Homo sapiens: one gene and its partners. The protein of the gene in region 1 interacts with the protein of each later gene in a pairwise test. Each region holds a gene or a part of one and is shown in the gene's direction. Other genes may lie near its edges. The genes, in order: LASP1, TJP2, UFSP1 and KRTAP4-2.

Region 1 (7,973 bases):
TCCTCGGGGGTTGGGGGCTGAGGGCAGGATAGGCAGGGGAGGAAAGGGTACTGCCCTTTTTGCAGGCCTGTTCTGTCTCCCTTCCCACCGCCCACCAGCTGTGTGGTCTGAGACTGGCCTCAGACTGTCTTTCCTCTCATAGCTTTGCTTCCTCACCAGTAAAATGAGGACAGCAAACCCAGTTGCCTCAAGCTGGGGGCTGGGCCTGATGCTTTGAGGCTTGGAAGGGCTGAGCCGGCCAGGCTGGAGCAGTGACGGGTTCTGGTTCCTGTGGCTGCCGTGGGGGCAGAGCTGGAGAGAGCTGCCTGCGGCTAGCAGGAAGGGAAGGGGGAGCCTCTTCTGCTCACCCAGCTTCACCCCACGGGGTCAGCTGGCTTCTCTCCATGCCCCTTCTGGGCCTGCCTTGCCCTTCCCTGTCTCTGGGAAGCTGCCCAGGCTATTTCAGCTTTATTTATTTTCCCATCTCTATATTGGTCTCCAAAATGGCACTTTGGGTGTCTGGGACACCTGGAGCCTCCCCTGTGGAGGAGGTAACCACAGAACTGTCCAGAAATGACCCTCTCGGTGGTCCTGCCCAGGCCTGGCTGAGGCAGGGGGCTGGCAGCTGGACCCCCAGCCCCCCTTCTCACTTGCTGCTCCTATCCCACCCCCAGGCTGAGCAGAGGCAGTGGCTTTGGGGTGGGACTGAGCTGGAGGTGTCTGTATGGCCCTGAGCCCAGGCAGAAGTGCCAAGTGCCAGTAGACTGTTCTTCCATTTTTTCCTTCATCAACTCACCTTGATGGGGTCATGGGAAATTACAGGGGGGTTTCTATCCTCCTCGGATCTTGTAAGCAGCACGGGTGGTAGAGTATCACTCTTACCCGAACTAGCTGGCCTGAGATTGAATCTCGCATCTGCTGCCACCAGCTGTGTGACCTTGGGCAAGTTGCTTAACCTCTGTGCACAGTGCCTTCGTCTGAATAATGTGGATTACCTCTCTCCAGAGGGTGGTGTGAGATAGGAGGATATGTTAAGCATTTAAAGATTCCTGACGTGGAGTCAGCATTCAGTGTTTGCTACTACTGTTCTCCCGGAAAGGAGAGGAAATGGAACTTGGACATGAAGAAGCTGGGAAATACACACAGCAACCTTTTGACCATGACTTCCAGCCCCGGCCCTTTCCATCAGCTCTCCTCTCCATCTGTGTGTGTCTAATTTTTTTTTTAAATTTGTATTTTTTTGAGACAGGGTCTCTCTCTGTCTCCCAGGCTGGAATGCAGTGGCGTGATCTTGGCTCATTGCAGCCTTGACTTCCCAGACTCAAGCGATTTTCTCGCCTCCACCTCCTGAATAGCTGGGACTACAGGCGTGCATCACCATGCCCGGCTAATTTTTGTATTTTTAGTAGAGACAGGGTTTCGTCATGTTGCCCAGGCTTGTTTCAAACTCCTGACCTCAAGTGATCTGCCCACCTCAGCCTCCCAAAGTGCTGGGATTACAGGTGTCAGCCACCGCGCCCTGCCTAAATTTTAAAAACTAGTGTTTCTTTTTTGTTAGAAGGGGATGGGTTACAAAGTATGTTGGCCCAACACATGGTAGGCACATAATAGTGGAAATTGTATTTCGCTCAATAAATTTTGTATTTTTTTAGAGATTTTTATTAATTTTTTTTTTTTTTAAATAGAGATGGGGTACTATGTTCCCAGGCTGGTCTCGAACTCCTGGGCTCGAGTGATCCACCTGTCTTGGCCTCCTAGACTGCTGGGATTACAGACATGAGCCATTTTGTTTTTTAAGTCCAGCCTAATTTTTGTGTTTTTTTTTTAGACGGAGTTTTACTCTGTCGCCCAGCCTGGAGTACAGTGTCACCATCTCAGCTCACTGCAACCTCCGGCTCCCAGGTTCAAGGAATTCTCCTGCCTCAGCCTCCCAAGTAGCTGGGATTACGCCCACCACGCCCGGCTAACTTTTTTTGTATTTTTTTTAGTAGAGATGGGGTTTCAGCATGTTAGGCTGGTCATGAACTCCTGACCTCAGGTGATCCACCCACCTCTGCCTCCCAAAGTGGTGGGATTACAGGCGTGAGCCACCGTGCCTGGCATAATTTTTGTTTTTAAGTAATGATCCTTCTTCTTATATTGGGTCATCAAGGCAGTTGTTTTCCCAATTATGCTGCTTTGTTTGGAGATTACGTGTCTGCATTCAATTCATTCATGATCCAACAAATGTTGATCTGCACCTCCTGTCTGCTGGGATGAGAAGCAAGATAGATCCAGGGAGAACAACTAAGAACTGACAGAAAAATTAGAGTTTCACGGATGGTGGTTGTTTGGGTGTCAGGAGCCTCAGATGTCAGTCAGTCCTGGGCCTGACAGCAGAGTTTCCAAAATGGGAGCCCAGGTATCTCCCAGGAGTGGGGTCCTCTGGGAGCCCAGGCATCTCCCAGAAGTGGGGTCCTCTGACCGAAGCGCTGAGTTGCATCCTGGCCTGAGCGACAACTGGGTTGTGACCTTGGGCAGGTCCCTTCCTCCACAGGGACCCCCACAGCACCCTGGTGAGCCATCCTAGACAACAGGGGCAAGCACTCCTGCCAGGGCAAGAAGGGAGCCCTGAAGAGGGGCTCTGGGCTGGGCCCTCCCTACACCCCTGGCCCCCCACCCTTCACTTCTGCCACCCCTTCCATACCCAAAGACCTTTCAAAGAGCCTCCCTGTCTTGATTATCCATAGTCAGGGTCTGAAGGTGCTTTAAAATGGTCACAGACTCCAAATGGGAGGGATTTTAGAGATCAGCTAGCCAGCTCCCTTCAGGGGACCCAGAGAGGGGAACTGACTTGCTTAGAAACACACAGCAAGGTGGTGCTGATCCCAGGCTCCCTCCCTTCTCAGCCCCTACCCCTCACCCCTACCCTCTGTGGGCCTCCTATGTTAGCAGTGAAATGAATGATCCTTCCCCAACAGGGAGGGGGAGGCAGAAGCAGTTCCCGATCCTGGGAACCTGCTGATGTCATTGCAGCGTCGCCATGGCGATTATTCCCCTGGATTAGGGGCCTGACCCTTGCAAAGCCAGGAAGCAGGGGACGGAGTGGGGGACTGGCACTCGTTCAGCACTTCATTGCTGACAGAGCACTTTCACACTGGCCCTCCACAGTGCGCTGCTGCTTTAGAGCCACTGTCTGTATCGTGGGTTGGAGTGACTGGCGTTATGGTCCCCATTTTACAGATGTGGGAACTGAGTCTTGAGATGTGAAGTCGTTGGCCCAAGATCACTCAGAAGTGGGAGACTGAGCCTGCGTTAGTGCTAGCTCCGCCTGGCTTTGTGCCCAGACTTGGTGATAAGAAGCCCCCTCCCCATATTATACCTGATTTCTGTCACAACTCTTTTACAGATGAAGAAACCGAGGCCAGGGGCTTGAGATGCAGGGCTTCTGTATCTGGAGCTACATTTCTCTGCCTCTGAGTGCCCTACCTTCCCCGATGCCCGCTTCCCAAAGGGCCTCCCACTAAGAGTCACCGTGCTGGCCCAGGGCTTCCAGGACTGAGGAAGAGCTGGTGCTAGGCAGGTTCTGGACTCTTGGGGTGGGTTGGTGCCTCTATCCACTGCATTCACTTCTGAACTAATGGGGAACAGCACATCCAAGCCCTTCTTGTCTGGATCAGAACAGAGAAGGAGAGGGAACCACATGGATGAGTGACTGGGGGCTTCAGGAGACAAACAAGGACTCTGACCCCCACAGGCATGTGCAGAGGACCTGACAGGTGTGGCCGTGGCTGCATGCGCATGCGCAGTCGCTCCAGTCCAAGCACAGCTCGGTGCTGCTGCCAGATGATTCCCTGCCAGGGAACTGCCTGGGTTTGTGTCCTGGGCTGACCTGTGTCCAGGACAGTGCAGCCCCCGTGGAGGAAATCCAAGCAGCTGGTGGGGTCTGGAACAGATGGCTGATGAGGTGGACAGTGAAGTCTCTGGAAGCCAAGGAATAGTTTCCTGTTCCATGAGTTTTCTCAGCCTCATTCTGTTCTTCAAAACCCTCAGGGGAGGACAAGCTGTTCCTCATATTTCAATTCCTTTCGTGCCAGGGAAGTCCTTTCTGATGTCTGACTTGAGTCCCTCTAGTACTGTGGTGGGGTGGAAGGGTTCTTCCCTGGAGCTTGGAGACCTGCTGAGATGCTGTCTGACCCCCGCTGCTTTCCTCCCCTCCTATGGCGGTGGCCTCTGAAGCCATCCCGGCAGGCTCCCAGAATCCGCGGGGCCTGTCAAAGGCGCACTGATGGAGCCTTCCCTGGGGCTGTCTCACCACCCTCCTTTCTGGGCACCAACTCTGTCCTTTGGCACAGCCCTCACTCAGCTGGTTGCTGAAAAGCTCCCCCAGGCGTAGTGGGCAGGGCCACATCCTGGCTAACATGAGGGCTGGGGCCACCCTGGGAGCCCTGGAAAGAACCTTTTTCCTATAAGCTTCCAGACAGGATGGGCAGGGAGTGAAGGGTCAAGAGTCAGGCAGATGAGGGTTTGCACTCTGGTAGTGCCGGACATTGACTGCTAAGCTCTGTGACCTTGGGCAGGGGACTTTGCCTTTCTGTGGCTCCGTTTCCTGATCCGTAAATTGGAGCTGTTAATTGCGTGGCTATATGTATGGTGGGATCTAAATGAGATGGTTCATGTAAGGCCCTGGACTCTGTGCCTGCCATTCACTGTGCACCAAAGACTTGGTAGTGGCTTATTATTACGAGTCTAACACCTTTTGGCTGAGGCCTCTGCTTTGAGTTGGGGACTTCTGATCAGGGTCTTTCTGCTGACTCCCTGTCCCTGTCTCCTGACTGGTTGCTGCCTCAGAGGGGCCCCAAGCCGAGGCCCTTTCGGCTCCTGGCCTGACTCCAATCCCTCTTCCTCCCCTCCTGCAGGTGCGCTACAAGGAGGAGTTTGAGAAGAACAAGGGCAAAGGTTTCAGCGTAGTGGCAGACACGCCCGAGCTCCAGAGAATCAAGAAGACCCAGGACCAGATCAGTAACGTGAGCTCTTGCCCTGCCCTGCGGCATCCCTGCTGCCCTCTGTTTGGTCCCCTTCCTGCCAGCCTGGCAGACGCAAGCCTGGCAGATGTGAATGAGGCCAGTGCCTCCACTACCCCTGCCCTCCAGGGTGGGCCTGGGGAAGAGCTTGGGGTTCCCAGATGCCTCTTCTCTGTGTACCCCCAGACCACCAGCACGCATAGCATTTTCTTCTTGAAGGGACTGTATTCTGTGGGGGCCTGTGTGCTAAATCAGCCCCCACTCTCTCTGACTGTTGTTCTTTTTTCTGGATATCGTGGGTATCGGTGAAGACTGCATGTCTCATCTTAGCACAAAGGTCAAAACTGGGGGGCGGGGAGCACCTGGCCTCCCCTGGTCTGCGCCTGGGTGCTGACATTGCAGTCATTTCCGCCCTTCCTTGGCCTCCTCCCCCACATCAGCCTGCTCTTCCTTCCTGTGTAAAAACCCCAGCCAGCTTCACCCGCCAGCCCTGCACCCCCTGGCTCACACCCCCCGCCTCCCTGATGGTCAGTGGCATCTGGCTGTGGCAGGGGTGGGCATGGAGAGTGGGCAGGGGATCAACTGTCCCCAGCATCGTGTGCCCTCCATGGCACCTGTGGCCAGAGAACAGGCCTCAGTTTCCTGCTTGGCAGAGCCACAGGCAAGCAGCCTGTGTGGCTTTAGGCATGCGGGGGCAGGGCACTGCGGTGAGCAGCAACCATGGGGGATGCGCACACAGAACTGCAGGGGCTGCCCAGCCAGCCTGGCCTAGGAGGTCCTGCCAGGGAGGGTTTAGGCAGGCAGCTGTCTTCGTGTCTGGAACAGGAAGGGATCAGTGAGCTGCCCATTGTTGCTCTGGGCTGAGGAACTGGGGATAGAGATTGCCGGGGGAGCCTGGCTTTCCGGTGGTCTCAGCACCCACTCCCTGGGCTCCACATCCCTTCCTACCCTCCACCTGGCCACCTCAGCAGGGCGCTCCTTTAAGAGCTTGGCTGGGCCGTGCATAGAGTGGGCTGCAGTGGTGGGTCAGGTGGATTTCAGAAGCACAGGCAGCCCACAGACAGCAGAACCAGCCATGCCCAAAATGGTGGCTTTCAAACTCTGACTTCAGCCTACAGTAAAATATACATTGTACGTCTTGACCCATCTGACAGGCATACATTTATGTAGAGGGAAAACAGAATGGAAGCTTTCATGAATGAGTACTTCCTACTTAGAGGGCGTTCAGATCTTTTTTTTTTTTTTTGAGACAGAGTCTCACTCTGTTGCTCAGGCTGGAGTGCAGTGGTGCTCCGCCTCCAGGGTTCAAGTGATTCTCCTGCCTTAGCCTCCCAAGTGGAGTAGCTGGGATTACAGGTGCACACCACCACCCCCGGCCAATTTTTGTATTTTTGGTAGAGACAGGGTTTCACCATGTTGGCCAGGCTGGTCTTGAACACCTGACCTCAGGTGATGTGCCCGCCTTGGCCTCCCAAAGTGCTAAGATTACAGGTGTGAGCCACCGCACCCGGCCACATTCAGATCTTTTCTAAAGATGCTGGTTGCAGGCCCCTATACACCCTCACATAATACAGCCCCTTTGAGGACTGTATTCCCAACACTTTGGGAGACTGAGGTGGGAGGATTGCTTGAGCCCAGGAGTTTGAGACTAGCCTGGGCAACATAGCAAAACTGTTTCTACAAAAAAAAAAAAAAAAAAAAAAAAATACAAAAACTAGCCAGGCATGATAGCACACGCCTGTGGTCCTAGCTATTCAGGAGGCTGAAGTGGGAGGATCACCTGAGCCCAGAGGTTTGAGGTTATAGTGAGCCGTAATTGCACCACTGCATTCCAGCCTGGGAAACCGAGTGAGACCCTGTTTCCAAAAAAAAAAAGGACCAGGCGCGGTGGCTCATGCCTGTAATCCCAGCACTTTGAGAGGCTGAGGTGGGCGGATCATGAGGTCAAGAGATCGAGACCATCCTGGCCAACATGGTGAAACCCCATCTCTACTAAAAATACAAAAATTAGCTGGGCGTGGTGGCGTGTGCCTGTAATCCCAGCTACTTGGGAGGCTGAGACAGAAGAACCGCTTGAACTCGGGAGGCAGAGGTTGCAGTGAGTCGAGATCGGGCCACTGCACTCCAGCCTGGCGACAGAGCAAGACTCCATCTCAAAAAAAAACCAAAAAGATGCTGGTTGCAGACTTACTGTGAATGGGTTTTGCAACTGGACTGTTGACCTGCAGTTTGAAGTTGGTGGCCTGAGGAAATGGCATGCTTCCCTTTGGCTAGCAGGGGATGCCTAGGGCGGGCACTCTAATCCTCCTTCCCCTCCAACTTCCAGAGGCCTGTCACAGTTGACTCTTTATATGCTAGGGCCTGGCCTCACGCCCTGGAGCTTCCCTTTGGCTCAGACCCTGCAAAGGGTAAGACCCTTAGGTCTGTGTTTCAGAGCTCTCGGCTTGGAAAGTGGGGGAGGGGGAAGATGGTCTTAGATTATGGGGAAAACCCGGAATGGTTCACAGAACTGGAATGTCGGCTCTTCAGCCTCTGCGGCTTTTCATGTAGAGGCTCTAGTCTTTTATCAGTGACACTTGCTCCCAATGTGCAACCCCAGCTCCCTGGCTGTTCACTCATTGCTTCACCCTGTGGGTTTTGGAGGAGGGGAGACAAGCCCAGTCATCCCTGCTTCCCTTTCTGGAAGGCTTCCAGAACACTCCACACTCAGCCTAAGCCACCTCCTCTTCTTCCCTCCCCCAGTTAGAGGTGTTAATATCCTAGTGACAAAACTCACCACCCTGGCCAAGCCATCCGCATCTCAGGAGATAACCATCTTTTACCCTTCTCGCGGTGCTGCAGTGAGCTAATGGTCCTCTGCAGGAGCTGGGGGAAGGGATCGACCCCGACCTGCTAGCTGCTTTTGCAGCTTTAGCAGAGACCTGTAGGGTGTGAATGCAAAGCCTGGAGACTCTTGGTTTTAATGAAAGCAATTACAGTCTGTCGGATATG
Region 2 (7,973 bases), on another chromosome or scaffold:
TATGAGAACGTTAGGGAATTTGTCTAGGCCTCTAGAATTGGATCGCTTCTCCCTCGGGGAGATAGCTCACACACAGCTGTGCTGCAGGGAGGAGAGAGGGAGATTCTATTACCTGTGGCCGCTTTTATTTTAGAAGCTTTTGGTGTTAGTATCCTGTTCACCAGCTGAACTGAGGTAGTTTTGTGAGACTTGACAGTGACTATTTTGTTGCAGAATTGACTAAGTTTTGCTCTTTGAGAACTAGATGTGTAGTCAAAGTATCTGGCATCTATGGAGTGCTTCCAGTTTGGAAGGGGGATGCAAGCTTCCCTGGGGAGGACAGGTTGAACAGGACATAGCTTCTGCCTTTGAGGGTCTGAGAATCTTGTAGAGGCATGGATGTGAGTGTAGCACAAGGCAGCGTGCAATGTGTTGATATTACTAGGAGAGTGGTACCAGGAGAACAGGCTGCAGAGGAGCTGGATTCAGAAGAAAAGCAAGACAGACTGAGAAAGTGTGGCTTAGCCGCGGTATGGAGGATGGATGGTAGCACAGATAGGCTGCAGGGCCCCTAATTTGAGTTCCTGCACAAAAACGACCATAATATCAACATTGTACCAAAGCCAAGTGATCTCAGGGAGAAAAATAAAAGATGCCTTCCCTGGCGAGCACATCAAGGTTTCAGTCGCTTGGCTGTGTCCTTGGGAATTTTCTTGAGTCCCCACTCCCAGGAGCCACATCAGACCCCACTGACCGTCCAACACAAATTCCTCTAGATGGAAGGGATGGATGATGACCCCGAAGACCGCATGTCCTACTTAACCGCCATGGGCGCGGACTATCTGAGTTGCGACAGCCGCCTCATCAGTGACTTTGAAGACACGGACGGTGAAGGAGGCGCCTACACTGACAATGAGCTGGATGAGCCAGCCGAGGAGCCGCTGGTGTCGTCCATCACCCGCTCCTCGGAGCCGGTGCAGCACGAGGAGGTGAGGCGAGGCAGGCCACGGGCAGGAACAGGAGAGCCTGGTGTTTTCCTTGCACTCTCGTGGACAGCTGTGTGTTCAGGGTGCTGTGGAAGGCATTCCTAAGGGTTGGAGCAGATGACTTCCAGGGAGTCTCTCGCTTTGAGTCCACGCTGGCATGGTTGCAGTCTGTGGGAAAGTGGGGCAGGCAGGTGGACTTCAGAAGAGCTTGAGGGGTCAGCACTCCGCACACCCATGCCCTCAGGTGCGATGGATAAACAGAATGGCTTTAGGTGCCGTCTGTCCAAATTACCAGCGGAACCTTCCTTCCCATGCAGTATTGTTGTATGTACTTGTAACCTTTGATTAGGTTTCTCTCTGTACTCTTAGATGTCCTTGCTTTTCTTCCCCATCCTGCCTTTAACCTTTCTAATCTTGCCAAAGCTCTTGAGTGTTTCCCCATCAGTTTCCTTCTCTCTTATATTTCAGTTTTTTAATTGAGTTCATGATCAAACCTTCATCTGATCACATCACATGTACTGTGCATCCACTGTGATTAGATAGCTTATGGGATCCTTGAAATCACATTGACAGGCACTGTAAAGTCACAGCCAAGTTAGCAATTATTAGTTGCACCTCAGAGAATGTTGGAATAATGATCTTTGAAGATGGGATTGTTCATATATTTGGATAATTATTGCTGTGGATTTCTCTCTAGCATTTTAGCTCATTCCAGTAAATGATTTTTTTCTTTATGAAATAGAACTACCAAAAAAAAAAAAAAAAAAAAGTTCAACAACAACAAACTGAAGGGGGAGAAAAATACACCATTACCACAGCAACAAATTAGTTTATGCTAGACAACTTGTAAAGAATAAATTAACTTCCAAATGCCTATAGACATGGATATTAGTGACACAAGAGATTTTAGACTTTTGGAGGGTTCTTAAAAAATTGTGCTTTAAAGGAAGAGACTCTACATTGGATGCAGCCAGTTTTTAAAAATGTGTCTGAAGCATTTGGTGATGGTTTCTGCCTGTTCAGTAAAGAAGCACCGGCTCAGAACCTCAACTTCTGGACTTACTCAAGTTTGCAGAACTCCTCCAAAGCAGTCGAGTGCTCTGTTCTCTCTGCTTGGATGTTCTTGTTGTGAATGAACCTTTATGTCTTGTAGAGCATAAGGAAACCCAGCCCAGAGCCACGAGCTCAGATGAGGAGGGCTGCTAGCAGCGATCAACTTAGGGACAATAGCCCGCCCCCAGCATTCAAGCCAGAGCCGCCCAAGGTACGTGGCTGGGAAGCCCAGGATGGGAAGGAAGAGGAAGCAGATGCCTCTGAAGCCTCCTGGACGGCCAGGGAGGAGCATGCACACTGAGATGGTGTTTAATTACGGTTCTGACTCACTGTGTTCTCTATTAGAGCCTATCTTTTGGCCTGTTGGGTGAACTCCCAAATTAGGGAAGGGCAAAAAGGAAGGAAAGGCAATATTAGGAGAGCATATGATTTTAGGACTGTTAGTGTTTATTTAATTTACTCTTCTTGTTAAAAAAAGATTGTAAAGAAAAAGATTGAAAAATACTGTACTGTATACCCAGAATCACCAATCGCAGAACGTGTTTTTCTTTTGCTGTCCAGCTAAAGTTTTCTGCCCAGTCTGATTTAGATGCACCAGATAATTCTTACTGGTGATGTGCTAAAGAGAATAATCATCACCACTGCTTACAATGCCTCTCATTAAGAGAGCTGCTTATTTGTTTAATAAATCATTATCCAGAGCAGAATCAATATAAAGACACAAGGGCTTATATCAAAAGATTATTTACCTTTAGTCAGAATCAGAGCTGTGACTCTATGTTTTTCCTTATACCAGAATAAAACCTATTTAACTCAATAATTTATTATTTATTATTACTATTTTTTGAGACAGAGTCTCACTCTGTTGCCCAGGCTGGAGTGCAGTGGTGCAATCTCGGCTCACTGCAACCTCCACCTCCTGGGTTCAAGTGATTCTCCTGCCTCAGCCTCCCGAGTAGCTGGGACTTAGAGGTGTGCACCACTATATTCAGCTAATTTTTGTATTTTTAGTAGAGATGGGGTTTCGACATGTTGGCCAGGCTGGTCTCGAACTCCTGGCCTCAGGTGATCCACCCACTTCGGCCTCCCACAGTGCTGGGATTACAGGCGTGAGCCACTGCGCCCAGCCTAACTCAATAATTTAGATGAGAAGAAAGCCATAATTGATTGTGTGAGCCATCAGAAGTAGTAAATGTGATAGGTACTAAGTAATAATAAGTGACCTCATAAAATACATCAGCGAAAATTTGCAAGCCGGGCAAGACTGGAAGTGTGAAGGAAAAGTGGCTGTTAGCGTGAAGCAGTGCTCTCCTCGCTCCCCACCCCAGTCTCATTCCTCAGCTGGACATGGGTCTCACCTGGGCCGGCTCATGTACCCTCAGTGCAGCAGTGACCTCAGAAGCCCACTCTTCGAGTCCCAAAGCCTGAATTGTTCTGAGATCTTCTCCAAGATGCTGATCTCCTCTAGAACAAAATTATTCCAGGTCTGATCTTACCTCCAGCAATCACAGCCCTCCCAGCACTTTCCCTATTCCTTTTTGGCTTCCTGACATTCCTAATAGACTAGTATAGGAAGGGAGGTAGGGCTCAGGAAGCCTGGCCAGTGGCTGTTTGCCCTGCTGTATTACATTCCTTGTCAGAATGGTATTTGTGGACCACCTTTGGAAACTGATCAGGAAATGGAGTGTATTAAATCACTAATATAGATTTGAAAATAAACTTAAAAGCCCAGGGTGAAAACGTGTCATTGCTCTCCGCAGGCCAAAACCCAGAACAAAGAAGAATCCTATGACTTCTCCAAATCCTATGAATATAAGTCAAACCCCTCTGCCGTTGCTGGTAATGAAACTCCTGGGGCATCTACCAAAGGTTATCCTCCTCCTGTTGCAGCAAAACCTACCTTTGGGCGGTCTATACTGAAGCCCTCCACTCCCATCCCTCCTCAAGAGGGTGAGGAGGTGGGAGAGAGCAGTGAGGAGCAAGATAATGCTCCCAAATCAGTCCTGGGCAAAGTCAAAATATTTGAGAAGATGGATCACAAGGCCAGGTTACAGAGAATGCAGGAGCTCCAGGAAGCACAGAATGCAAGGGTAATTGTTTTTAAACTACACATCATCAATAAGAGTTTTAAATAAGTTTGATTTCAACATAACAGCGAACAGCCCCTTTGCTGCTGCTGCAGATGTGGCAGGGATGCACTGCACCAAAGGCAGGTGCTGTGTATGTCACTTCAGATTGCCAGCTCCCAGCACGTCCCTTGTTCTTCCAAAGAAGAAAACTTGACAATATAGGGGAAGAAGATTCTGCTCTTTATACACAGAACTTTGTATAGAGTTCTGGAATGAGGAAGTGTGAGGAGGGAATCAGTGCCTCTCGGAAGTCGTTTTAATTAGAATGTGATTTTTTTTTCTTAAACGTGTCTTCATTGGCTCCCAGATTTGCCGTAGAAACCAAGCAAACTGGGTGCTAAAACAGAAAGGCCCATAGATTGTACTTTTTGAGCTGTTTGAATTTGTATACCATATGCACATAGAACTTTTCAAACAAAGAAGAATTTAACTAAAGGTCTGTGGAGTATATTTGCCCAGTAGATGTGGGAGTTTTCTTTCAGGTCTAGCACAACAGCAGCAGTACATCTGAGCATTTTTCTTTTCTTGTCGTAAAATATACATAACATAAAATTTACCATTTCAACCACTTTTTTCTTTTATTTATTTTGTTTTGTTTTGTTTTGTTTTGAGACAGGGTCTCCCTCTGTCACCCCGGCTGGAGTGTAGCAGTGTGATCACAGCTCGCAGCAGCCTCCACCTCTCAGGCTCAGGAGATACTCCCACCTCAGCCTCCTGAATAGCTGTAACCACAGGCACATGCCACTGCACCCAGCTAATTTTTCGTATTTTTTGAAGAGACAAGGTTTTGTCATGTTGCTAGGCTGGTCTCGAACTCCTGGGCTCAAGCAATGCACCCTCCTCAGCCTCCCAAAGTGCTAGGATTACAATCATGAGTCACTGCACCCAGCCTCAACCATTTTAAAACGTTCGGTTCAGCGGCATTAAGTACCTTCACATTGCTGTTCAGCCATCACCACCATCCATCCCCAAAACTTTTTTATCCTTCCCACGTGAAACTCCGTACCCATAAAATACTAACTCACCACTCTCCTCTCCCCGCAGTCCCTGGCACCCACTCCTTTACTTTCTGTTTTTTGTGAATTGGACAGTGTAGGAACCTCCTATAAGTAGAATCATACACTATTTGTCTTTTTGTGATTGGCTTATTTCCCTTAGCATGATGTCCTCAAGGTTCATCCAGGTTGTAGCATGTGTCAGAGTTTCATTCCTTTTAAATAGTTTTCCTGTCTGACGTGTACCGCACATAACCATGGAAATGAGGAGGCCGCTTCTGTGTTTCCTCTTCTTGAAATGGGATGGGAAAATAAGTAGGATATGGGGAAAGGGTGGGACCAGCAGGAAACCAGCAAGCAGAGTGCCCAGTGGTTCATTCTTTCACTCTTATTCTTTTCTTTTTTAATTACCACAGATCGAAATTGCCCAGAAGCATCCTGATATCTATGCAGTTCCAATCAAAACGCACAAGCCAGACCCTGGCACGCCCCAGCACACGAGGTAAGGGCTGCCTAGTGGGTACAGGTCTAAGGCGGGGACTTCTCAAGGACTGGGACTTGAAGAAAGAATTTCCTTTACCCAAATTTCAGAGTAACAGGAGGATTTTTTCCCCACAGATTGACTGTTTGCCTTACTCATTCCATCAAATTTAATTGTAAAGATTACAGAGTCAAAACTTAAGCATAGTTTGCTTGTGTGCTAAAACTCTGACAAAGTGTAATCATTGATGTTTCCAGCCAGTACATTTGACACATTGGAGCCTGGTTATGTTACATTGCACATGGTTAGCACATGAGCAGAATTCCTACGGCTTAGACCTGTTTTGTCTTGTTTGCTGACTCTCAGCCAAACTTCTTAATTCCTTTGCATCATCCAGCAAAGTCAGACCGCTTGTGCTGCCCTGGGGTCTAAAGGGACCGTGACAAGCAAATGAGCAGTCTTGGTAAATGCCACACAAACAGTAGGAATGTTCACAGTGTCTTCCTGTTGAAGTTTTATACTGGATTGCTTCCTGCTTCCGAGAATAGAAAAAAAAAAGTCACATTTTCTTGTGGCCATTCTTTTGTTTTTTTTGGAGACAGAGTGACTGTCGCCCAGGCTGAAGTGCACTGGTGCAATCTCAGCTCACTGCAACCTCCGTCTCTCAGGTTCAAGCGATTCTCGTGCCTCAGCCTCCCGGGTAGCTGGGATTACAGGTGTGTGCCACCATATCCAGCTAGTTTTTGTATTTTTAATAGAGACAGGGTTTCACCATGTTGGCCAGGCTGGTCTCAAACTCCTGACCTCCGCCCGCCTCGGCCTCCCAAAGTGCTAGGATTACAGGTGTGAACCACTGTACCCAGCCTCTTGTGGCCATTCTGACTGGAAGCTGAAGTCTAGTTTTCCAGTGATAGAAAACTGGAAACAAATTTCTTCTTTACCAGCTGAGTGGTAACACAGTCAACCAGGTTGCCTCTGGCAACAAAGAGTTCTTGGTTATGATGGACTGAAACTGGCAGAGACCTCGCTGCTGGGTGAGACTAGCCAGGGAGCTTAGGGGTAAGGAGGGCACCCCCTGTCCAACAGGGAGATTCTTAGGTCAGGGAGCACCTGGCTGGCTTCCTCACTCACCGCCGAAGTGGGCATTGGATTTGACCTATTACGAACCTGGAGCAGGACCAGGGATGCCCTGGTTGCTCTGCAGAATGTGGCTCAGAGGTAAGTGATCTGCTCGGGATACCCAGTCACTGTGCTCAGAGCCATGCCTCCCCGGGCAGCCGGAGGACATGGATGTGCTCTGGAATGTCTTTAACACCCTTTTTTTGTTAGTTCCAGACCCCCTGAGCCACAGAAAGCTCCTTCCAGACCTTATCAGGATACCAGAGGAAGTTATGGCAGTGATGCCGAGGAGGAGGAGTACCGCCAGCAGCTGTCAGAACACTCCAAGCGCGGTTACTATGGCCAGTCTGCCCGATACCGGGACACAGAATTATAGATGTCTGAGCACGGACTCTCCCAGGCCTGCCTGCATGGCATCAGACTAGCCACTCCTGCCAGGCCGCCGGGATGGTTCTTCTCCAGTTAGAATGCACCATGGAGACGTGGTGGGACTCCAGCTCGTGTGTCCTCATGGAGAACCCAGGGGACAGCTGGTGCAAATTCAGAACTGAGGGCTCTGTTTGTGGGACTGGGTTAGAGGAGTCTGTGGCTTTTTGTTCAGAATTAAGCAGAACACTGCAGTCAGATCCTGTTACTTGCTTCAGTGGACCGAAATCTGTATTCTGTTTGCGTACTTGTAATATGTATATTAAGAAGCAATAACTATTTTTCCTCATTAATAGCTGCCTTCAAGGACTGTTTCAGTGTGAGTCAGAATGTGAAAAAGGAATAAAAAATACTGTTGGGCTCAAACTAAATTCAAAGAAGTACTTTATTGCAACTCTTTTAAGTGCCTTGGATGAGAAGTGTCTTAAATTTTCTTCCTTTGAAGCTTTAGGCAGAGCCATAATGGACTAAAACATTTTGACTAAGTTTTTATACCAGCTTAATAGCTGTAGTTTTCCCTGCACTGTGTCATCTTTTCAAGGCATTTGTCTTTGTAATATTTTCCATAAATTTGGACTGTCTATATCATAACTATACTTGATAGTTTGGCTATAAGTGCTCAATAGCTTGAAGCCCAAGAAGTTGGTATCGAAATTTGTTGTTTGTTTAAACCCAAGTGCTGCACAAAAGCAGATACTTGAGGAAAACACTATTTCCAAAAGCACATGTATTGACAACAGTTTTATAATTTAATAAAAAGGAATACATTGCAATCCGTAATTTTCTTTGTGGTGGATTTGTATGC
Region 3 (7,257 bases), on another chromosome or scaffold:
GGGTGCTCCTCTCTGTTCCCTGCATTTGTCTGGATATGGGTGTCTGCCTGATCTCTTTCCCCTCCTGCCCGCTGGCCTGTGTCCTTGTCTCTGCCTGTCTCCTTCCCTCCCTCCCTCTCTCCCCTCATCTTTGCCAACCTGCCCCACCTCCTCTGCAGCTGAGCGATAACCCTTGGGCCGACAGTGCCCTAATCTCCTCCCTCCTGGCTTCTCGACCGACCCTTCACCCTTTCCCTTTCTTTCTCCCAGCAGACGCCGCCTGCCCTGCAGCCATGAGGCCCCCGCAGTGTCTGCTGCACACGCCTTCCCTGGCTTCCCCACTCCTTCTCCTCCTCCTCTGGCTCCTGGGTGGAGGAGTGGGGGCTGAGGGCCGGGAGGATGCAGAGCTGCTGGTGACGGTGCGTGGGGGCCGGCTGCGGGGCATTCGCCTGAAGACCCCCGGGGGCCCTGTCTCTGCTTTCCTGGGCATCCCCTTTGCGGAGCCACCCATGGGACCCCGTCGCTTTCTGCCACCGGAGCCCAAGCAGCCTTGGTCAGGGGTGGTAGACGCTACAACCTTCCAGAGTGTCTGCTACCAATATGTGGACACCCTATACCCAGGTTTTGAGGGCACCGAGATGTGGAACCCCAACCGTGAGCTGAGCGAGGACTGCCTGTACCTCAACGTGTGGACACCATACCCCCGGCCTACATCCCCCACCCCTGTCCTCGTCTGGATCTATGGGGGTGGCTTCTACAGTGGGGCCTCCTCCTTGGACGTGTACGATGGCCGCTTCTTGGTACAGGCCGAGAGGACTGTGCTGGTGTCCATGAACTACCGGGTGGGAGCCTTTGGCTTCCTGGCCCTGCCGGGGAGCCGAGAGGCCCCGGGCAATGTGGGTCTCCTGGATCAGAGGCTGGCCCTGCAGTGGGTGCAGGAGAACGTGGCAGCCTTCGGGGGTGACCCGACATCAGTGACGCTGTTTGGGGAGAGCGCGGGAGCCGCCTCGGTGGGCATGCACCTGCTGTCCCCGCCCAGCCGGGGCCTGTTCCACAGGGCCGTGCTGCAGAGCGGTGCCCCCAATGGACCCTGGGCCACGGTGGGCATGGGAGAGGCCCGTCGCAGGGCCACGCAGCTGGCCCACCTTGTGGGCTGTCCTCCAGGCGGCACTGGTGGGAATGACACAGAGCTGGTAGCCTGCCTTCGGACACGACCAGCGCAGGTCCTGGTGAACCACGAATGGCACGTGCTGCCTCAAGAAAGCGTCTTCCGGTTCTCCTTCGTGCCTGTGGTAGATGGAGACTTCCTCAGTGACACCCCAGAGGCCCTCATCAACGCGGGAGACTTCCACGGCCTGCAGGTAACTAGTGGCTAGCTGGCGTGAAGCTGGCTCCTCTGGGTCCCAACGGTCCCTCCCCTCCCTGCAGGGACCCAGGCATGAGGGCTTCTCCAGGCCCATTCCCAGAAGTCCCAGAAGTCCTCCCTGAGGGCTCAGATCCCAGGGTGGTCAGCAGGGCAGACAGGAAAGCCACCATGGGTCTATTTTCTCTTTCTCTGCATCCCTCCCCTGATCTCGTCCTCTCTCTGTCCATGGTTCCGGGTCTGTAACTGTTCATCTCTCTGGCTCTTTGTCTGTCCATCTGTTTCTGTCTACTTGTCTGTCTGTGCCTGTCGCTCCATCCCACCCCCCTCTCCCTCACCCCCAGGTGCTGGTGGGTGTGGTGAAGGATGAGGGCTCGTATTTTCTGGTTTACGGGGCCCCAGGCTTCAGCAAAGACAACGAGTCTCTCATCAGCCGGGCCGAGTTCCTGGCCGGGGTGCGGGTCGGGGTTCCCCAGGTAAGTGACCTGGCAGCCGAGGCTGTGGTCCTGCATTACACAGACTGGCTGCATCCCGAGGACCCGGCACGCCTGAGGGAGGCCCTGAGCGATGTGGTGGGCGACCACAATGTCGTGTGCCCCGTGGCCCAGCTGGCTGGGCGACTGGCTGCCCAGGGTGCCCGGGTCTACGCCTACGTCTTTGAACACCGTGCTTCCACGCTCTCCTGGCCCCTGTGGATGGGGGTGCCCCACGGCTACGAGATCGAGTTCATCTTTGGGATCCCCCTGGACCCCTCTCGAAACTACACGGCAGAGGAGAAAATCTTCGCCCAGCGACTGATGCGATACTGGGCCAACTTTGCCCGCACAGGGTCAGCAGTGCAGAGGGAGAGAAGGCTGGGGAGGACAGGAGTCGGGGGCGGGAGGACACACAAAGGCAGACACACGGAGACAGAAAGGACGGGTGGGACAGGGGCAGGATAGAACAGCCAGAGAGGGATATGCTCACAAAGTAGATAAAAGGGGAGAGAAAAAGAAAGGAGACAGAGAAGGCAGAGGGGGTCTTGCAGAGACAGAGGCAAAGGAAAGTGAGGAGGAGACGAGGTAGACATGGAGGGGGCGGGGCACAGTGGCTCACCCCTGTAATTCCAGCCCTTTGGGAGGCCAAGGTGGGAGGATCCCCTGAGGCCAGGAGTTTGAGACCAGACTGGACAACATAACAAGACCCCGACTCTTAAAAAGAAAAAAAATACAAAACTTAGCCAGGCACGGTGGCTCGTGCCTCTAGTCCCAGCTACTTGGGAAGGTGAGGCAGGAGGATTGCTTGAGCCTGGGAGGTTGAGGCTGCAGTGAGCTATGATGGCACCACTGCACTCCAGCCTGAGTGGCCCTATCTCTGGAAAAAAAAAAAAAAAAAAAAAAGGGAGACCAAGACAAAGGAGTTGGAGCTGGATTAAGTCAAACCAGTGATGATTCACTAGCAGTGACACATTCTCTCACACACACACCAGTTTACCTGGATCGAGAAGAGGACAATGAAATCTAGCATTGGATGGGTGTTGTTAAAAAATGTGATGTTTGTAGACATAGGACCCGTCCTGGTTATTTAGGAAAGTCTCAAGACATCCTAGCCATTTTTTTAGTGAGAGAAACAAAGATGGAACAGAAAAGCTGAGGGAAACGGAAGGAGACGGAGCGCTTGAGGAAGGGAAGACCCCAATGACCGCGCACATTGGAGAAAGTGGTGGGAGGGAGGGGACGGGTTCTCTGGGGCTCTCCGCTGAGCTGAAGAGTCCGGGATCCCGTGGAGTTGGGGGCCACCTCCTCCCACTGCCCGTCTGGACTGAGCCTTCCCTTCCTTCCGCAGGGATCCCAATGAGCCCCGAGACCCCAAGGCCCCACAATGGCCCCCGTACACGGCGGGGGCTCAGCAGTACGTTAGTCTGGACCTGCGGCCGCTGGAGGTGCGGCGGGGGCTGCGCGCCCAGGCCTGCGCCTTCTGGAACCGCTTCCTCCCCAAATTGCTCAGCGCCACCGGTATGCAGGGGCCAGCGGGCAGCGGCTGGGAGGAGGGGAGTGGGAGCCCGCCAGGTGTAACCCCTCTCTTCTCCCCCTAGCCTCGGAGGCTCCCAGCACCTGCCCAGGCTTCACCCATGGGGAGGCTGCTCCGAGGCCCGGCCTCCCCCTGCCCCTCCTCCTCCTCCACCAGCTTCTCCTCCTCTTCCTCTCCCACCTCCGGCGGCTGTGAACACGGCCTCTTCCCCTACGGCCACAGGGGCCCCTCCTCTAATGAGTGGTCGGACCGTGGGGAAGGGCCCCACTCAGGGATCTCAGACCTAGTGCTCCCTTCCTCCTCAAACCGAGAGACTCACACTGGACAGGGCAGGAGGAGGGGGCCGTGCCTCCCACCCTTCTCAGGGACCCCCACGCCTTTGTTGTTTGAATGGAAATGGAAAAGCCAGTATTCTTTTATAAAATTATCTTTTGGAACCTGAGCCTGACATTGGGGGGAAGTGGGAGGCCCCGGACGGGGTAGCACCCCCCATTGGGGCTATAACGGTCAACCATTTCTGTCTCTTCTTTTTCCCCCAACCTCCCCCTCCTGTCCCCTCTGTTCCCGTCTTCCGGTCATTCTTTTCTCCTCCTCTCTCCTTCCTGCTGTCCTTCTCCGGCCCCGCCTCTGCCCTCATCCTCCCTCTCGTCTTTCGCACATTCTCCTGATCCTCTTGCCACCGTCCCACGTGGTCGCCTGCATTTCTCCGTGCGTCCTCCCTGCACTCATACCCCCCCTTCAACCCGCCCAAATGTCCGATCCCCGACCTTCCTCGTGCCGTCCTCCCCTCCCGCCTCGCTGGGCGCCCTGGCCGCAGACACGCTCGACGAGGCGGAGCGCCAGTGGAAGGCCGAGTTCCACCGCTGGAGCTCCTACATGGTGCACTGGAAGAACCAGTTCGACCACTACAGCAAGCAGGATCGCTGCTCAGACCTGTGACCCCGGCGGGACCCCCATGTCCTCCGCTCCGCCCGGCCCCCTAGCTGTATATACTATTTATTTCAGGGCTGGGCTATAACACAGACGAGCCCCAGACTCTGCCCATCCCCACCCCACCCCGACGTCCCCCGGGGCTCCCGGTCCTCTGCATGTCTCAGGCTGAGCTCCCTCCCCCGCGGTGCCTTCGCCCCTCTGGGCTGCCAATAAACTGTTACAGCCACGGGAGTGTGCGCGACTAGGGAGCCAGGGGTAGAGGCAGAACGCCGGAATCACGGGGGCCGAGTCTATGCAGGAGCGGGGCTGGAGGGCAAGAAACAGGCGAGCTCCGAGGCGGGCGCAAGGCAAAGGCCAACCCCTAGCCCTGCCCTGCCGGGCGGAGCTCGCGCCTGCGTAATGAGGCCCGCAGGCAGGCTAGCTGGCACGGCGGAGGGGAGGAGAGGGGAGGGGAGGGGAGGGGAGGGGAGGGGAGGGGCGGGGCGGGGCGGGGCGCGGCGGAGCATTGTGGGAGCTCCTCGGTCGGTGCCGGTCGGTGGCTGCCTATTGCGGCCTGCGGTGATCAACGAGGCCCGGGGAGCGCGTCCCCAGTCTGCGCGCCGGTCCTGCGGCAGCTGGCCCAAGACCCGGAGCCGAAAGGAAGTGTTGGAGCCTGAGGTCGCTCCGCGCCGCTAGGAGGACGCTGTGCCTGGCCTGGGACCTCCGCTCCCGCCCACCGCCCTGGAGCCGCTGAGGGACGTCCACGTGGGCCTGTCCCCGCCGAGCCGCGGCCCTGTCCGCCTGGCGCTGCTCTCGGGCCACTACCTCTACTACCACTACGGCTGCGACGGCCTGGACGACCGCGGCTGGGGCTGCGGCTACCGCACTCTGCAGACGCTGTGCTCGTGGCCAGAGGGCCAGCCCGCGGGCGTACCTGGACTGGCCGCCGTACAGGCGGCCCTGGAGGACATGGGCGACAAGCCCCCCGGCTTCCGGGGCTCCCGGGACTGGATCGGCTGCGTGGAGGCCAGCCTCTGCCTCGCTCACTTCGGAGGGCCCCAGGGACGCCTCTGCCACGTACCCCGGGGAGTGGGGCTGCACGGGGAGCTGGAGAGGCTTTACTCGCACTTCGCAGGGGGTGGGGGCCCAGTCATGGTTGGGGGGGACGCAGATGCCAGGTCCAAGGCCTTGCTGGGAGTCTGCGTAGGGTCAGGCACGGAAGCCTATGTCCTGGTATTGGACCCTCACTACTGGGGCACTCCAAAAAGCCCCAGTGAACTACAGGCTGCTGGGTGGGTGGGCTGGCAAGAGGTGAGTGCAGCCTTTGACCCCAACTCCTTCTACAACCTGTGCTTGACCAGCCTTAGCTCCCAACAGCAGCAGCGCACCTTGGACTGAGGACGAAGTTACAGAACTGAGATTCTCGGGTCCCAGACACGCACCTATGTACCTCCCACTGGTGTCCCTGCAAAGCCTGGCGCTTTTGACATCAATAATAAAAGTGGCAGGGCTGAGCAACACCTCAGGAGTTACTCTGGAAGGATGGAGGAGTTATGTAACACACGAGAGTCAGGAGCCCTGTGGAAGTGCTTTTATTAGCAGTAAGGCTGATCGTACAAAAAATTCTCAGAGCTTCATAGGACAAGGTAGTACAAGTATGGATGATACAGGACTGAGGAACGGGGGACGGCTCAAAAGAAATCAACATCGTCTGGGGCATCCAGGTCCCGATATTCCACAATGGCCCTTGGGTCTCCACGAACCATCCTGTGAGGTGAGAGGTACAGGATGAGAGCTGAGGGCTCCCAAAAGGGAGTCTGCAGGCGGCAACAAAGCTTGGGCGTCTGCCCTCCTCACCTGTTGCGAGGTTTCCCAGGATAACCTCCCTGGCCTCGGAAGGCATCATAGTTCCCTCGACCAGCACCATACGGGGCATGGGGGTATGGAGGGCCTCCTGTGGGGACTGCAGGGCGGACAGCACCAGCTATGACAGAGATCAGTGTTGAGTTGCAAAACTATGTCCTCAATTCCATCCTCTGTTTTCTTCTCCCAAAGCCACACACTCACCAAGCCCCTTCATCTCCCTCCTGTACTTACCTCCATAGCCCAAGATCGGGGGCCGGGGCTGACCATAGGGCATCAGGCCCTGGGGAGTCTGGTGTGGGTAGGGGAGTCCTGGGGTCAAACCTGGGGGGAGTACAACACGGACAGGGACATGAATTACTGCGGGGGCGGGGAGGGGGATACGGGTACAATTGACTTCTAGGGCTATGGCCTGAGGATGGGGCAGAAACTTCTCGGGGTGACACGTTAAAGAGAAACAGGAGTCCCTGGGTAGTCAAGGAAGAGGGCACATGCGACCTTCATGGATCGTATCTTACTCTGGGCGGGGCCAGGTGGCTGGGCTGGCTTGATCTCAGGCAGAGCTGGGCGCTTAGCATCAGTGAGGAAGTTGTTAAAAAACGCGACTTCCTTTTTCACTTCCTCAATTTTCTCTGCATGCTTGTTGAAGATATGTTTGCGCACAAACTCAGGACCCTGGGTGGAGAGAGGAGAGGGGTCAGGACAGCCACATAAGGGTTGCCTCGCTCCCAGGCCCGAGCTGGAAGGATTCCCAGCTCCCGCCTGCCAGTGCAGTAAGCAGTTCCCCCACCCCTGCCCAGGGGGCTTCCTGTCTCAACCCCACCTCCCACCACCGTAGCACGGCCATTCTCCAACATCCCACACCTTGAATTTCTTGCCACTGAGAGGACACAGCCACTTATCCTTGCCCAGTTCCTGCGTGTTGGAGGTGACGAACTTCTCCACTTCCTGCTCTGGGTCTTTGCGCCCCATCTTCTGGGCCTCTTCCTCTGAGAGTGACTCCCGCACACTCAGCAACGGCGTGAGCTTCTCCTCAAAAGTCTTCTGCCACTCCAGCACTGTGGTTTGGGAACAGAGGAAGGAAGGTTGGCAAGGGAGCCAGAAGGAAGGATGGTGGCAAGGGGCTGGAG
Region 4 (6,254 bases), 2.3 Mb from region 1:
AAGTCACATTCTTTTTTTTTTTTTTTTGAGATGGAGTCTCACTGTGTCGCCCAGGCTGGAGTGCAGTGGCGCGATCTTGGCTCACTGAAATCTCTGCCTCCCGGGTTCACGCCATTCTCCTGCCTCAGCCTCCTGAGTAGCTGGGACTACAGGCACCCACCACCGTGCCCGGCTAAATTTTTGTATTTTTAGTAGAGACAGGGTTTCACCGTGTTAGCCAGGATGGTCTCGATCTCCTGACCTCATGATCCACCTGCCTCGGGCTCCCAAAGTGCTGGGATTACAGGCATGAGCCACCATGCCCGGCCAAGGCTTTTAAGAGTTTCTTAACCAACCTTCTATTTTCTTTCTGGATGAAAGAGTTCTAATATTTTATTCTTTCTTGTAAGGGTATCGCTCTATTCTTATGAGAATCTAAATACACTTTTCTGGGTAAACATTAGCTTATGTCTCAGTTAAATTTTGAAATGAACATAGGCACAAAACAGGCAAGATGTGTTGCCAGAAGTATAAAAATGCAGGTTGTATTTATTCCTGTGGCCTATCTAATTATGGCTAATATTTGGAGGACTTTGGTGCATTCAGCACTAACCTAGTAATATGGTTGTTGGGAAAAATAATTTTTGAAGAGTTTATATCACTGTTTTAAGTCATAATTTAGGTTAGACAGAAATGTCTTTCGGGTATTTGTGGCTGGGTATTTTATTTTGAATTGCTTCTCTCCTAGGAGGAGCATGTAGGGAAAATTACTATATCTTATAGGATCCATACTCTTAAAAATGGGATTTTACATGACTGAACCTGAGGACAATTACAAATTTTAAAAGATAAGCATGAACATGGATGGGAGGGATAAAGGATAACAATGAGTCATCAAGTAAAAGGGAATCAAAAAAAAGTCATAAATGTATAGGTTTGTAAACTGGAAGTCACGTTAGAGATATCTAACCCAGAGATTTTCAAACAGTGAAGTTTGCCATTGAGTAGAGCCCAGAAATTGACTTAAAAGTCTATACATGGCTCACTCCTGTAATCCCAGCATTTTGGGAGGCAGAGGCAGGTGGATCACGAGGTCAGGAGATCGAGACCATCCTGGCTAACACGGTGAAACACTATCTCTACTAAAAATACAAAAAATTAGCCAGGCATGGTGGCGGGCACCTGTAGTCCCAGCTACTCAGGAGGCTGAGGCAGGAGAATGGCGTGAACTGGGGAGGCAGAGCTTGCAGTGAGCCAAGATAGCGCCACTGCACTCTGGCCTGGGCGAAAGAGCGAGACTCCATCTCAAAAAAAAAAAGTCTATACAAATTAATTATATCCTAAAGCTGGTGTCTTAAAAGCAGTATGGAAAGGATTACTTCAAATATACTATAAAACAGGTAGCCAAATTCAGGAATAAACGAAGGAAAGGGAAAAAAGCAAGAAAGAATAAAAGGGATTAATGAAAGATGTACAGAATGAAGAAAAAAAGGAGAGATTTTCATTTGTTAAATCAAAACAAATTTCATCCAGATAAAATATTCAACATAAAAATGAAACCGTTCAGTGGCCACACCTAACCGTGGATCCCAGCCAGTAGCCACAGCTGCACAAAAGCCCAGGCAGCAGCCCCACTGAACCTCAGGGCCTGGGCAGGAGTTTTACCCACCCAGAGACCCCCAAGAGTAAGCCCTGCCTGTTCACAAATGCTACCAGCTTCCCCGTCCAGAATCCCAGGCCGAGTTGACTGCTGAGAGTCTTTCCCTGCTGAAGGGAACTTGTAAAGTGTGGAAGAGGAGACTGTGTCCTCAAAGGCACAAACACCAATGTAAGATTGCAAGGATTTTACACACACACACACACACACACTGAAATGTTATTAGCCATGAAATGAAGAAAATCCTGTCATTTGGGACAACATGGATGGACTTTGAGGACATTATGCTAAGTGAAGTAGGTCAGACAATGAAAGACAAATAATCTCATTTACATGTGGAATCTAAAAACTCATAGAAACAGAGGGTAGAATGGTGATTGTCAAAGGTTGTGGATGGAGGAAATGAGGAAATGTTGGTCAAAGGGAGAAAATATTCATTTATAAGAAGAATAGGTTCTGAGGATCTAATGTACAGCATGGTCACTGTAGTTAATTACACTGTATTGTATATTTAAAATTTGCTGAAAGACTAGATCTAAAATGTTCTCACTACACACACTCAAAAAATGGTAACTATGTGAAGTGGTGGAGGTGAACTAATTTGATCATGACAATAATTTCACAATATATACATATCAGAGCATCAGGGTGTACACCTTATATACATACAATTTTATATTTCAATTATAGCTGAGTAGAGGTAGAAAAAATGAAATTGTTAAAGTACTAGAAGAAATCGTGAGAGATTCCTAAATATAATGTAAATTTATCTTAAGGAAAACACACACACACACACACACACTCACACACACTCACATCATGAAGAAAAATAGTTAATATAAAGTGATCTCTACTGAATCATCAGCAGGCACCAATCGTCACGGCTTCTCAAGGGCACGATTCTTTTCCAGAATACAAGGTCTCCTGGAAATCTTAGAGTTGTTCTCGTACACCACCATGGGGCTCACAGGGTCTTAATTCCACAGCATCATGGAACCCACTTTCATCCCTCAATAAAATATGATGTCTGGGTACATCAGAGCCAGAGAACAGTGCAGGCTCAGAACACCAGCCAGCGCACCAAGCAGGGGTTCACTTGGGAGCCCAAGTTGTTTTCATTCTGCTTGAATCACCTGGAAATTAGGGCCAGGGCAGGAGTAGGAACTGGCTTGGAACATAGCAGCATCATAAGAACACCACAATTTGATTTATTAGACTTATAAGCACCTGAGAGAAGAAAGGGAATCTCCCTCATTCATCCAATCCCCTCCATCTGGTTCTTGGATCTCCCTCAGAAACACCAGCTTACACTGAAACTCCTCCCCTGATTATCTGCAGAGGCTGCCCAGTTCATAAAACATTTCTATCATGGTAAGTCAGACATTTTTCCACCCCCTTCCCTGGGTTCCTTGACTCCTCAGGGGTGGGGAAATACATATATATTTATTAACTGATGAGTTAATGAATTGACAACATAGCACATTTTTGAAACAATAGTCAGCCATCCCTACATGAAAAAATATAGGCTGATATCCTTTGTTCTTGATACCTGTTTTCTGCTTTCTTTCTCTCTTTATTGATTTATTTTTTGAAAACAAAGATGTAAAGTGTGAAATTGGATCAACAACTTCTATAAGGAAGCAGCAGAGTATAGGACATCTTCAAGGCCCAGCAATTCAGCAGAGAAAGCAAGAGGGCTGGGAGCGAATTAGAGCAAGCAAAGGATACTGAGTCATCTAATTTGGGTTGGCCAGAAAATTTTGGAACCTGGAGAGATGAGCTCATGTGCCCTGTTAGAGCTAGGAAGGCAGAAAGGCAAAGTCACAAGGAAAATCTGCCCCAGGGAGCAAAAAAATGAGGGACTTGGACCTTTAAGTATAGCTGTTCTCTGAAGCCAACATTCCCCAAGAGGCCCTGAATCTGAATTTTGGAGGGTTGTTTCTGTAGAAAAGGAAACATCAAACTTTCACAGCTTAGTTTTCCACCTTAAAACAGCTCTGTATTTCTCATCAGAAGGTCTAGAAAATGGGTCACAATTCAGAGTGCGGAAGATAAAAAAGCGATAGGTCCTACGGTGTTCTCGTTCTCACACCAGTGGTCATCTGTTTCACACTGAAATCTGTTTCACACTGAAACCTTCACAGGCCATCTGACCCATAATGAAGGAGCCATCAGACTGAAATGCAGCTTTATCCTCCTGAGTCACCAGAAAGAGTCAAGGGCCTGTAAGAATAGTAATCACCCAAGAGTAGTCATGATGTGTTAAGCAAATGAGACTGAAGCACATAGTATGTGCTTACAGGCAGATGTCACATGGCTGCTCTAGGAGGAAGCTATAGTAAGAGAGACACAGGAGGTGGTTCAGGAAGAGCTGAGCTAAGGAGTCCTAACACATTAGGGAAAGGAGACAGTGTTTCCATCTATGTGGATAAGTTAACCAGAACAACAAACTTGCCTAATTTGATAATTGCCTACATATCAGGACAAATAATAACAAGGAAAGAGTGTTGCATCTGATGACATCAGGCCTTAGCAGGGTATAAAAGAGGATCTGGGGCAAGGAAACTTCCAAACCTTCCAAACCCACCTTCCTGGAAATCCACCCAGAACCTCCACCCTCTGACACCATGGTCAACTCCTGTTGTGGCTCTGTGTGCTCTGACCAGGGCTGTGGCCTAGAGAACTGCTGCCGTCCCAGCTGCTGCCAGACCACCTGCTGCAGGACCACCTGCTGCCGCCCCAGCTGCTGTGTGTCCAGCTGCTGCAGACCGCAGTGCTGCCAGTCTGTGTGCTGCCAGCCCACCTGCTGCAGCCCCAGCTGCTGCCAGACCACTTGCTGCAGGACCACCTGCTGCCGTCCCAGCTGCTGTGTGTCCAGCTGCTTCAGACCCCAGTGCTGCCAGTCTGTGTACTGCCAGCCCACCTGCTGCCGCCCCAGCTGTGGCCAGACCACCTGCTGCAGGACCACCTGCTACCGCCCCAGCTGCTGTGTGTCCACCTGCTGCCGCCCAACCTGCTCTAGTGGCTCTTGCTGCTGATGCCCTCACCTATACTCACCTGCCTTTATTAACCAGCATTCTTGATATGATCCACCTGTGAACTGAATCATGCAAGGCCAATTGGACAACCTCAGTTCCAACCAATTCTTGGATTGAGTTTGGCCTCCAAATATGCTCACCAAACACTATGTTGCTACCCTCTACCAAATGAATACAAGTTTGAATTTTCTCTGAAATATGTCAACCCCATGTTCCCTGAATTGAAATATTTGCTCTCTACCATAATTTATCACATGGAGCTATTCCTCTATCTTAAATAAATTTTAATTTTTGAGGCATACAAATAATATACGGGCATTGTGTCTCATTTTTCCTTCTTGAATTCTCATCCTTACCTGTCAAATTTTCTGATGTTCTTCCCTGCAGAGGGAGAAGACCACAGCAGATGATATCAGGGGCTCCACCTCTATCCTATCAGCACTCTCCATTCAAACATAGGAAAATGGTTCCTTAGAGCAGGCACCTGGAACTCTCTACCTGAGGACTTTCTCTGGATAAAGGAGCAAACTCTGGGCTGGAGACTTAAAGCCTCTAGGAACAGCACTCAGAGAATGAGTGGGAGTTGGTAATATATGCCCTGGCTTGTTTCCCTCCAGTGGGGGGTATGTCAAACCAGTCTTCCAGAGGTCTTCAGCGGGATTTATACCAGATGCCTGCAGGAACATTCTGATCATGAACTCACTCTATAATGACTTTCCCTCCTTCCCAGGGTCATTCTTCAAGTTTCCTCCAGTGTTTCTTGGGTTAATCGTCCAAATATACCACATGTTCTCAGATCCTCTTTTGTGGGTTTGCCCCAGAGAGCACACAATCTAAAACAGCAGCATTCCTAATCTCAGTATTAGTGTCCTTCAAAATGTTTTTGTACAATATGAATGGTTACCATAGATTTTGATCAACTCTTGAGTTTACTGTCACCTGAATGGACACCTCTGAACATTTTGCTGTTTTTTTTCTTTTCAATTTTTGCGCATTACAATTTTTTTCTATTATTTGTTCATTTACTTTTTTGGTCTTCTTTTAAGAATTTTAATTTTTAAAGTTTTTATTTCAATATGCATGTTTGCTTTTAAACTAGTTGTCTTTGATTGTTTTTTTCTTCACATCGTTTTATCTGAGGGATAGGACACAACCACCGTGTTGGTGATTCTCATCCTAAAAAAGGCTATATTGAAAAAGGTTTCACCCTGAGCCATGCTGCTAAGTTGGAGGCACCAAAGAAAGATCTAAAACAGGATGTTTGCACAAGTGACTTTTATAAGAAAATGCTCTCAGGAGAAATCAGTAAGGAAATGTCGGAAACAGAATAGGATTGTAGAAGAGGCTAAGCCCAAAAGGATTTTATTGTCATTTGACCCCACAGGAAGCTCTAGAGTGTGAATGGTATTACAGACCCATCTTTCTGAGAGGTAAGGTCGTTGGAACTTTACAATCCTACATCAGTTACCACTAGCTATGGCCCACCCTGTGGGAGAGGAAGAGGATGCGAAGAGGGCGGAATCCTCCAGATGAGGTGGCTCCTGTAAGCTGAGGACAACTATCTGGAGAAGTGTGCAGGT

Evidence for each region.
Region 2: the proteins of LASP1 (region 1) and TJP2 interact in binary tests that used the Homo sapiens proteins (3 or more experiments, as listed by UniProt).
Region 3: the proteins of LASP1 (region 1) and UFSP1 interact in binary tests that used the Homo sapiens proteins (3 or more experiments, as listed by UniProt).
Region 4: the proteins of LASP1 (region 1) and KRTAP4-2 interact in binary tests that used the Homo sapiens proteins (3 or more experiments, as listed by UniProt).

The regions. Positions count from the first base shown.
Region 1 is NC_000017.11:38,893,535-38,901,507, forward strand, and holds part of LASP1 (LIM and SH3 domain protein 1), read left to right. Parts: intron 1-3,367; exon of another isoform or gene 3,368-3,537; intron 3,538-4,877; coding exon 4,878-4,985; intron 4,986-7,973. UniProt on the Homo sapiens protein: Plays an important role in the regulation of dynamic actin-based, cytoskeletal activities.
Region 2 is NC_000009.12:69,247,257-69,255,229, forward strand, and holds the end of TJP2 (tight junction protein 2), read left to right. Parts: intron 1-755; coding exon 756-968; intron 969-2,118; coding exon 2,119-2,229; intron 2,230-3,778; coding exon 3,779-4,108; intron 4,109-5,558; coding exon 5,559-5,644; intron 5,645-6,952; coding exon 6,953-7,118; 3' UTR 7,119-7,952; downstream 7,953-7,973. UniProt on the Homo sapiens protein: Plays a role in tight junctions and adherens junctions. Acts as a positive regulator of RANKL-induced osteoclast differentiation, potentially via mediating downstream transcriptional activity.
Region 3 is NC_000007.14:100,887,248-100,894,504, reverse strand, and holds UFSP1 (ufm1-specific protease 1), read left to right. Parts: upstream 1-4,789; 5' UTR 4,790-5,005; coding exon 5,006-5,662; 3' UTR 5,663-5,784; downstream 5,785-7,257. Other genes in the region: ACHE (acetylcholinesterase), read left to right, coding at 250-1,340, 1,687-2,171, 3,167-3,336, 4,170-4,291; SRRT (serrate RNA effector molecule homolog), read right to left, coding at 5,956-6,031, 6,122-6,248, 6,362-6,463, 6,646-6,802, 6,992-7,185.
Region 4 is NC_000017.11:41,176,174-41,182,427, reverse strand, and holds KRTAP4-2 (keratin-associated protein 4-2), read left to right. Parts: upstream 1-4,206; 5' UTR 4,207-4,263; coding exon 4,264-4,674; 3' UTR 4,675-4,982; downstream 4,983-6,254. UniProt on the Homo sapiens protein: In the hair cortex, hair keratin intermediate filaments are embedded in an interfilamentous matrix, consisting of hair keratin-associated proteins (KRTAP), which are essential for the formation of a rigid and resistant hair shaft through their extensive disulfide bond cross-linking with abundant cysteine residues of hair keratins.